2 linked regions of the Homo sapiens genome follow. The protein of the gene in region 2 purifies or fractionates together with the protein of the main gene of each other region. This does not show direct contact. Each region holds a gene or a part of one and is shown on either strand. Other genes may lie near its edges.

What was found.
Region 1: the proteins of RAB7A (region 2) and RIMOC1 purify together in Homo sapiens (affinity purification with western blotting; 2 studies listed by BioGRID, with this or other methods). This does not show direct contact.

The regions. Positions count from the first base shown.
Region 1 is NC_000005.10:41,907,260-41,910,912, reverse strand, and holds part of RIMOC1 (RAB7A-interacting MON1-CCZ1 complex subunit 1), read right to left. Parts: intron 3,178-3,653; coding exon 3,071-3,177; intron 1,168-3,070; coding exon 1,021-1,167; intron 1-1,020. UniProt on the Homo sapiens protein: Plays an important role in the removal of damaged mitochondria via mitophagy by controlling the stability and localization of RAB7A.
Region 2 is NC_000003.12:128,729,167-128,732,819, forward strand, and holds part of RAB7A (ras-related protein Rab-7a), read left to right. Parts: intron 1-3,653.

The sequences.
Region 1 (3,653 bases), on a different chromosome or scaffold from region 2:
GGGAGGCCTTATTTTCAATCAATTATAAATATGCAATTCTATTAATACATGAAAATTAAAATAACTTCAATTTACTAGTAGTTTTACAAAATAATTTAAAAAATATTTTTACTAGCAAATTCCCCTAACAGGTTTGCAATATAAGCAGTCATCATCTCATTAAAAAGGTAACTTTTCACAAATACATTACTTGAAGTGAGATCATATCTATTTCTACTACCGCTGGAATAAAATAATGAAAATTTACACCCAAAAATAATTTTAATAAATCAAAATTTTTAAAGTGGCTTGTCATTGAAATTTGGAGATGTTTCCACAGCCTCCCCTGATAAATAAATAGAGAAAAAAAATATATCTAAGTAAACAGTCAGCAGGCAGTTAAAGATGAGAAATTATTTGCTTCAAAGAGTATCCAGGACTAGATATACAAATCATAGGATTATCCAAATAGAGATGACAGTACAAAGCCTGTGAACAGGTTATCAAGCAAAGACAGAATAGAGACTATCGGTGATGAAAGAGACATCCCTGGCTAGTACCTGTGTTTCTAGAATGGAAGGCAGAACAGTTGCTAGCAAGAGAAGACATTTCAGAGATGAAGAAGTGGAAAAGAAGCATGCAGGGTCTCAGAGGGAGGGGGTGATCAACATTAAGAAGGGGAGCAAATGTTCGAGAGAATAAGGACTGTAAGAACAGACGTGGTAATTAGATTAATAGTGACCTTCAAGAAAACAGCATCTGCAAAAGTAAAGGGGGTCGAAATGGGAATATCTATATTAAAAAAAATGATTAGGCACAGCTATTACAATTCTATTATGCAAATATTCTGAAATACATTTAGTAAAATATGATACTTTTGTTGCAACATTGGTCTGAAGTGTTAAGCTCTTTTATCTCCCTCTTCCAATCTTAATTTAAGAAACAAAGATACAATCAAGAAGAAAAAAATATAGACTCCAAAAAGCAGGACAGCAAGTACCAGCAATATTCCATCATAATTAACAGGAATGTAAAACTTACTTTTGGATGCATATTATTTTCCTTTACTAAAATTTCTGGTTCTGAAAGAAAACTAATCAGCTCTTTTACTTTCTGTGAAGAAGAGTCTTCAGGAAAATCTTCATCTACTAGCTTGTTCTCCTCAAAATATGTCATGTCCAAAATAGCCTAAAAAAAAAAAAAAAGAAAGATATCTATCAATGACTTAAAATTGAAAAAAAACAATTCTTACAGTCTAACCTTGCACACATAGGTGCTTTATTACACATTTAAATCTTCTAGCTCAGTATGTAAATTTGAGAAGTAGGCAAAATGTCTAGATGTAAATATAATTTGAGAAAGATTTTAAAGAAAACTTCATAGGTATTTCACTAAAGTGCTGAATTAATGATAATCTTTCTTTCCCTCAAAAAAGAAAATAGAGCTTTGTTTTAATTTACAGAATTTAATCATATATAATTATGAAAAAGGTAATTATTATATTCTACTACTTATATAACCCCTGAAAATTTTCTAAATGCCTGCTGTATCAAGTTAAGGTCACTACTTCCAGTTTTGAACCTTCAAAGGATTTGTGTTCCCAAATACAGAGCCAGCGTGAGGGGCGTATGTATCCTGCCACCCAATAGAGGAAGCATACCATCAACATATGCAACTCAAACACTAAGCCCCCAGTATTCCTAATTATTAGAGATGCTGTTAAAGCATATTAAAACTCCCCAATCCTTTTTCCTTTTTTAATCTATTGAACTAAGACTAAGGAAACTGGGTTCTAGGGTCAGTTCTACCACTAATCACTTAACTAACCAAAGACAAGTCAATTTTACCTTTTTTGAGCCTCAGTTTCTTAATTGGCTAAATGATAAATTGGACTAAAATACCTTTCAAAGTTCCTTGTTGGAGTAAAAAATTAATTAACATATGTAAGGTACTAGAAACGTTACCTAGCACCCAGTTAGTGCTTTACTTTCTGTGAACATGAGGAGTAAATGTTATCGTGCGAAAGGCCTAAGCCAGTAAGGAGAGATCATCATATATGATTTCATCATCATATGAAAGGTGATCTGTTGATTCAGAACCATCAATAGGGTTTAAGAGGATCTTAAAATTGAAATCTGTATCTCTAGGTCTTTTGCCTTATTCCAGTAAGTTAAAATGTCTGGAACACTCTCGTGAAAAAAATGAGATGACATAAAACACATACAGACAAGCACAGAGTCTTCTGAACAGAAAGAAAACCAAGCAAAATACCTGCCAAACTTAAAACAGTTCTCTGTGGTTTGTGAGTAGCTGTTAGGCTTACTCATCCATGGTGTTTGAAGGCAGAAGCTATCTTTAGAAATTTCCTAACAGGAAGAACAGCACCAAGCATTTAAATGCTATAAATGGGCACTTTGGAAGCCTAACTAAGTGTACTGTACTTTCTGTAACCACTTCAGTTTTATTATCCCTTAGCAATCCAAAAAGGGCACATGAAAACACTCTATCAACTACAAAGTGCTATATAGATGTTAGTTACCATAATAAAATTACATTTCTTGATGTTAGCATGCCTCAGCAGTGTTTCAGAAAACCAAGAAAAAAAGGTGTTGTCCACACAGCAGCCTGATTTGGAAAGGAAAGTTAAAAAAAAAAGTGGGTGAATAGAAAAATCACATAGATATGCATGACACTAGCAGGGAGAATAATATTGAGAATCCTAGGGAAGGTAAATTTCAGGGGAAAAAAAAAAAGTCAGGGCCCTTATATACTCCCCTGCTCCCTCTGAAACTTTCAAGAGATTGGACATTGCACACACTAGTGTCCTGTTCAATTATCTCTAAAGGAAAACAATTCCGTTATCTGTAAGATTTTCTTCCTGACTTTTCTTATTAACACATCTAATAAATCTTACTTCTTTTCATACTACCTCAAAGTTTTAAGTTTTTGTGTTTTATTCATAGTTTTTTGGACAAAATTAAACACTTGAAATATAGAATAAACTGATTTCATTTTACCTAAAGTTGGAGTCAATCATCTAAATAAACAACCTGCCCTCATAAAATGCCAGAGTCCACCACTCTTTCAGTACCTGTGTGTAAAGTTCTAGAAGATTTGATGGATTTGAACATTCTTTCTCTTCTCCACACAGGAGTTTCAATTTTTCTAATGCTGCAGAGGCCCGAATTAAAAAGTGATCTATAAGAAATAAAAACATGAGGATTACTTCACCTAGTTTCAGAGTGTTATTTAAACAAAAAACACATTATGTATGAAGATGAAATGACAAGATGAAATAATATTATGACATATGGAGAAACAGAATTATAGTAATAATATCTTATCTAAAACATGAAATATCTCATAATGCCTAATCCTAATTAAGTAAATTTATCATGAAAATTTTTCCTACAAAGCAAAATACTGAAAACTTTCTAGAGTCACTCTTGCCATTTCTTAAATGCAGTCTGTATTCTCATTATGCTTCTTTTATGATAATGCACTCAAAATAATTAAACAAATTTAAAACTTACTGGAATATACAAATAATATACATAAATATACAGAAAGGGCTTCCACTGAAAACTTAAGATTTCATAAATGTAGTTGCAAATGTTATTCAAAAGACCATGATTGACCAAATCAAATTCCTTACAAAATGCCAGCATTATGAG
Region 2 (3,653 bases):
CCAACCCTGTAATCAGAGAACAACTCTTTATAGTAAAGTGTGGCTTTGAATCAGTTTTCTGACCCCACTGCCAAGTGAAGCCAAAAAATTTTGGTTATTTGATTAGCTTTTAATATGTCTTCAGCTGGGCACGGTGGCTCACGCCTGTAATCCCAGCACTTTGGGAGGCCGAGGCAGGTGGATCATGAGGTCAGGAGATCGAGACCATCCTGGCTAACACAGTGAAACCCCATCTCTACTAAAAATACAAAAAATTAGCCGGGCGTGGTGGCGGGCGCCTGTAGTCCCAGCTACTCGTGAGGCTGAGGCAGGAGAATGGCGTGAACCCAGGAGGCAGGGCTTGCAGTGAGCAGAGATCATGCCGCTGCACTCCAGCCTGGGCGACAGAGCGAGACTTCTTCTCAAAAAAAAAAAAAAAAAAAGTCTTCAAAGGGATCTTCACTAATAACGTTTTTGCTCTTACTTTGGCATTAGACTTTGTAAACAAAGATGTAGCAAACACAGACCACGCAAATATGACAGTTGTCTTATGCACATTCCTCTCTGGCATTTGACACAAATATTTTAGTTTTTCCTATGATAAAGTATTTATCTCCCCATTCATTTAATTCAACAAATACAGCTGAGATAGATTTGACCAGATGTTGGACTTGGAGCTGTAGGCAGGCTTTTCCTGGGGAGGTAAGGATTAGAAGTCCTCCTGAATAAGGCTAAACAGAGGTTCCCCTTGGCATTAAATGTCTTCTTCTGAAGGCGACTGAAACTCGAGAAATGAACTCCCCGCCTCCCCCCTTATTTTTTGGCTATTGGCTTGCTGTTGATGATTCTTACCTCTCATGTAAGGAAGGCTACCATTGTATTCTCAGGCATCCATTCCTTTGTGTTACCACATGCTTATCTGTTAATATTATCTAATAGTTCTCTATGCTTCTCTGTCTGCAGTTTGCTGCAGAAACATTTTTGCAATATGCTGATCTTTTCAGTTATTTGCTCTTAAATCTTCTATTCTGTTTTTCCCCACACTCCATATGGCATTAAAGACAGAAAAATAGTTTGTGTTTTAAAACTTTTTTTTTTTTTTTAGACGGAATCTTGCTTTGTAGCCCAGGCTGGAGTGCAGTGGTGCCATCTCAGCTCACTGCAAGCTCCACCTTCCAGATTCATGCCATTCTCCTGCCTCAGCCTCCCGAGTAGCTGGGACTACAGGCACCCACCACCACGCCCGGCTAATTTTTGTATTTTTAGTAGAGACGGGGTTTCACCGTGTTAGCCAGATTGGTCTTGATCTCCTGACCTCGTGATCCACCCGCCTCGGCCTCCCAAAGTGCTGGAATTACAGGCGTGAGCCACCATGCCCAGCCTAAAACTTATTTTTAAAACATTTCTTAATGGTGGTGGTCACTGCGATTTGTGAATCAGAGGTAAAAGTGATGTGGCGAGTGAAATCAAAACAAGTTTTTTAGCAGTGTCTGTTACCAGTTTCAATTTTAGTATCCCAGGCTGTGATTACAAAAACATATTTAAGAATAGCTACTTGCAAAATATCTCCTTGTGGGAGGAAGAAAGCTTGGGAGTTGGTTCCAATGCTGACCTACAGCATTGGCCTTGTTCATTTGCTTGAAGATGCAGTACTTAACTCATGGGGCCTGGAGTCTCTGTTTTGGTGATGGCATCACTGCTGAGAAATTTAAGTTTGCCTGATTCTGTTGTCCACTTCTGGTGTCCTGGGACTGTCTACAGTTGGGACCAAGCAAATCCAAGGGAGCCTATTTAAGGGGAGCCTGGGACAAGGGCAGTTTAGGAATTCTCCAGCCTTGCTTGTCTCTTAGTTGGTCCTTCTTGTGTGGCTGCTGCCAGATAAAGGAAAGGAAGTTCTCTCTTCTCCCTCAGCCTTTCCTTTCCAGCTTTGCTTCATACTGCTGGGCATTAACCATCTCAGATCAGGAGTCCTTTAAAAGTTACTTAGTGAAGTAAATAGTTACATCATTGATTTCCAATATTGGTATGTAAGTGTAATAAAAAGTTGGTTTCCATTGAATAAGCTTTGTAGTTTGAGTTATTTGAGAGTGCATAATTACAAAGCTGCTATGAATTAACCTTAAATAACCAAGCATAGACTTTATGAAAAATAGTGTCCCTTATATGTGGTATTCAGTCAGCCTACCAACAGTTCTTCTGTTCACTTACAGATATGAGGATCCCTGAGATAACTGCGGGTCATTTAAAACCCACTCTTAAATCCTCTGACCTGCACCATGTTAATGGTTGTTAAAAAAGCGATAACATTTTGTAGAAACCTTCCTACACATTTGCCTTTAAATGCTTTTTAATGTTTCTGTGGTATTTGTAGTTTACATGTGATTTCATTTGGTGCTCACAACTGTTGTGTGTATCTGCCTGAAATAGCTGAGGCTGTATGCTCAGGTGGCTCAGCTGGAATGTCAGTCTAGGTCTGCTAACTCAGTTCAGTGCTCTTTCTGATGTACCATCCTGCCTTTCCATTATATGCTAGTGCCCTAAAGACCACGACATTTCACCCCTTGTAAAAGTGTATCTTTCGGCCGGGGGCGATGGCTCACACCTGTAATCCCAGCACTTTGGGAGGCCGAGGAGGGTGGATCACAGGGTCAAGAGATAGAGACCATCCTGGCCAACGTGGTGAAACCCCGTCTATACTAAAAATATAAAAATTAGCTGGGCATAGTGGCATGCACTGTAGTCCCAGCTATTCAGGAGGCTGAGGTAGTAGAATCGCTTGAACTGGGGAGGCGGAGCTTGCAGTGAGCCGGGATCGTGCCATTGCACTCCAGCCTGGCGACAGAGCAAGATTCCATCTCAAAAAAAAAAAAAAGTGTCTCTTTCTTCCACTACCTTTTTTTTTTTTCTCTCTCTGAGACAGAGTCAAGCTCTGTCGCCAGGCTGGAGTGCAGTAGCATGATCTCGGCTCACTGCAACCTCCGCCTCTCGGGTTCAAGCAATTCTCCTGCCTCAGCCTCCTGAGTAGCTGGGGCTACAGGTGCACGTCACCATGCCCAGCTAATTTTTGTATTTTTAGTATAGATGGGGTTTCACCATGTTGGCCAGGATGGTCTCAATCCCTTGACCCTGTGATCCGCCCGCCTTGGCCTCCCAAGGTGCTGGGATTACAGGCGTGAACCACCACGCCTGGCCCACTACCTTTTATTTAAAATGATACGTCTTTTTTGCTGATTATTAAACTATTCAGTTAAAAAAAAAAAGCTAGGAAAATTCAGAAATATAAAGAAGGAAAATTTGTGATTCACTACCCCGAGGAAGACCAAAGTGTTAACTGGTTATTTTCTTCCTTTGAATGTATACTTTCATACCTTCCTTTAATGAGATTGAACTCTTGGCCAGGCATGGTGGTCAGTACTTTGGGAGGAGTAATCCCAGCACTTTGGGAGGGTAAGGCAGGAGGATTGCTTGAGCCCAGGAGTTCAAGACCACCTTCAGCAACAAAGTAAGACTCCATCTCTACAAAGAAAAGAAAAAATTAGGTGGGTGTGGTGGTACACTTGTGGTTCCAGATGGTGGGAGGCTGAGACGGGAGGATCACTTGATTCCAGGAGTTTAAGGCTGCAGTGGTTTGTGTTCGTGGCACTGCACTCCAGCCTGGGTGGCAGAGCAAGACC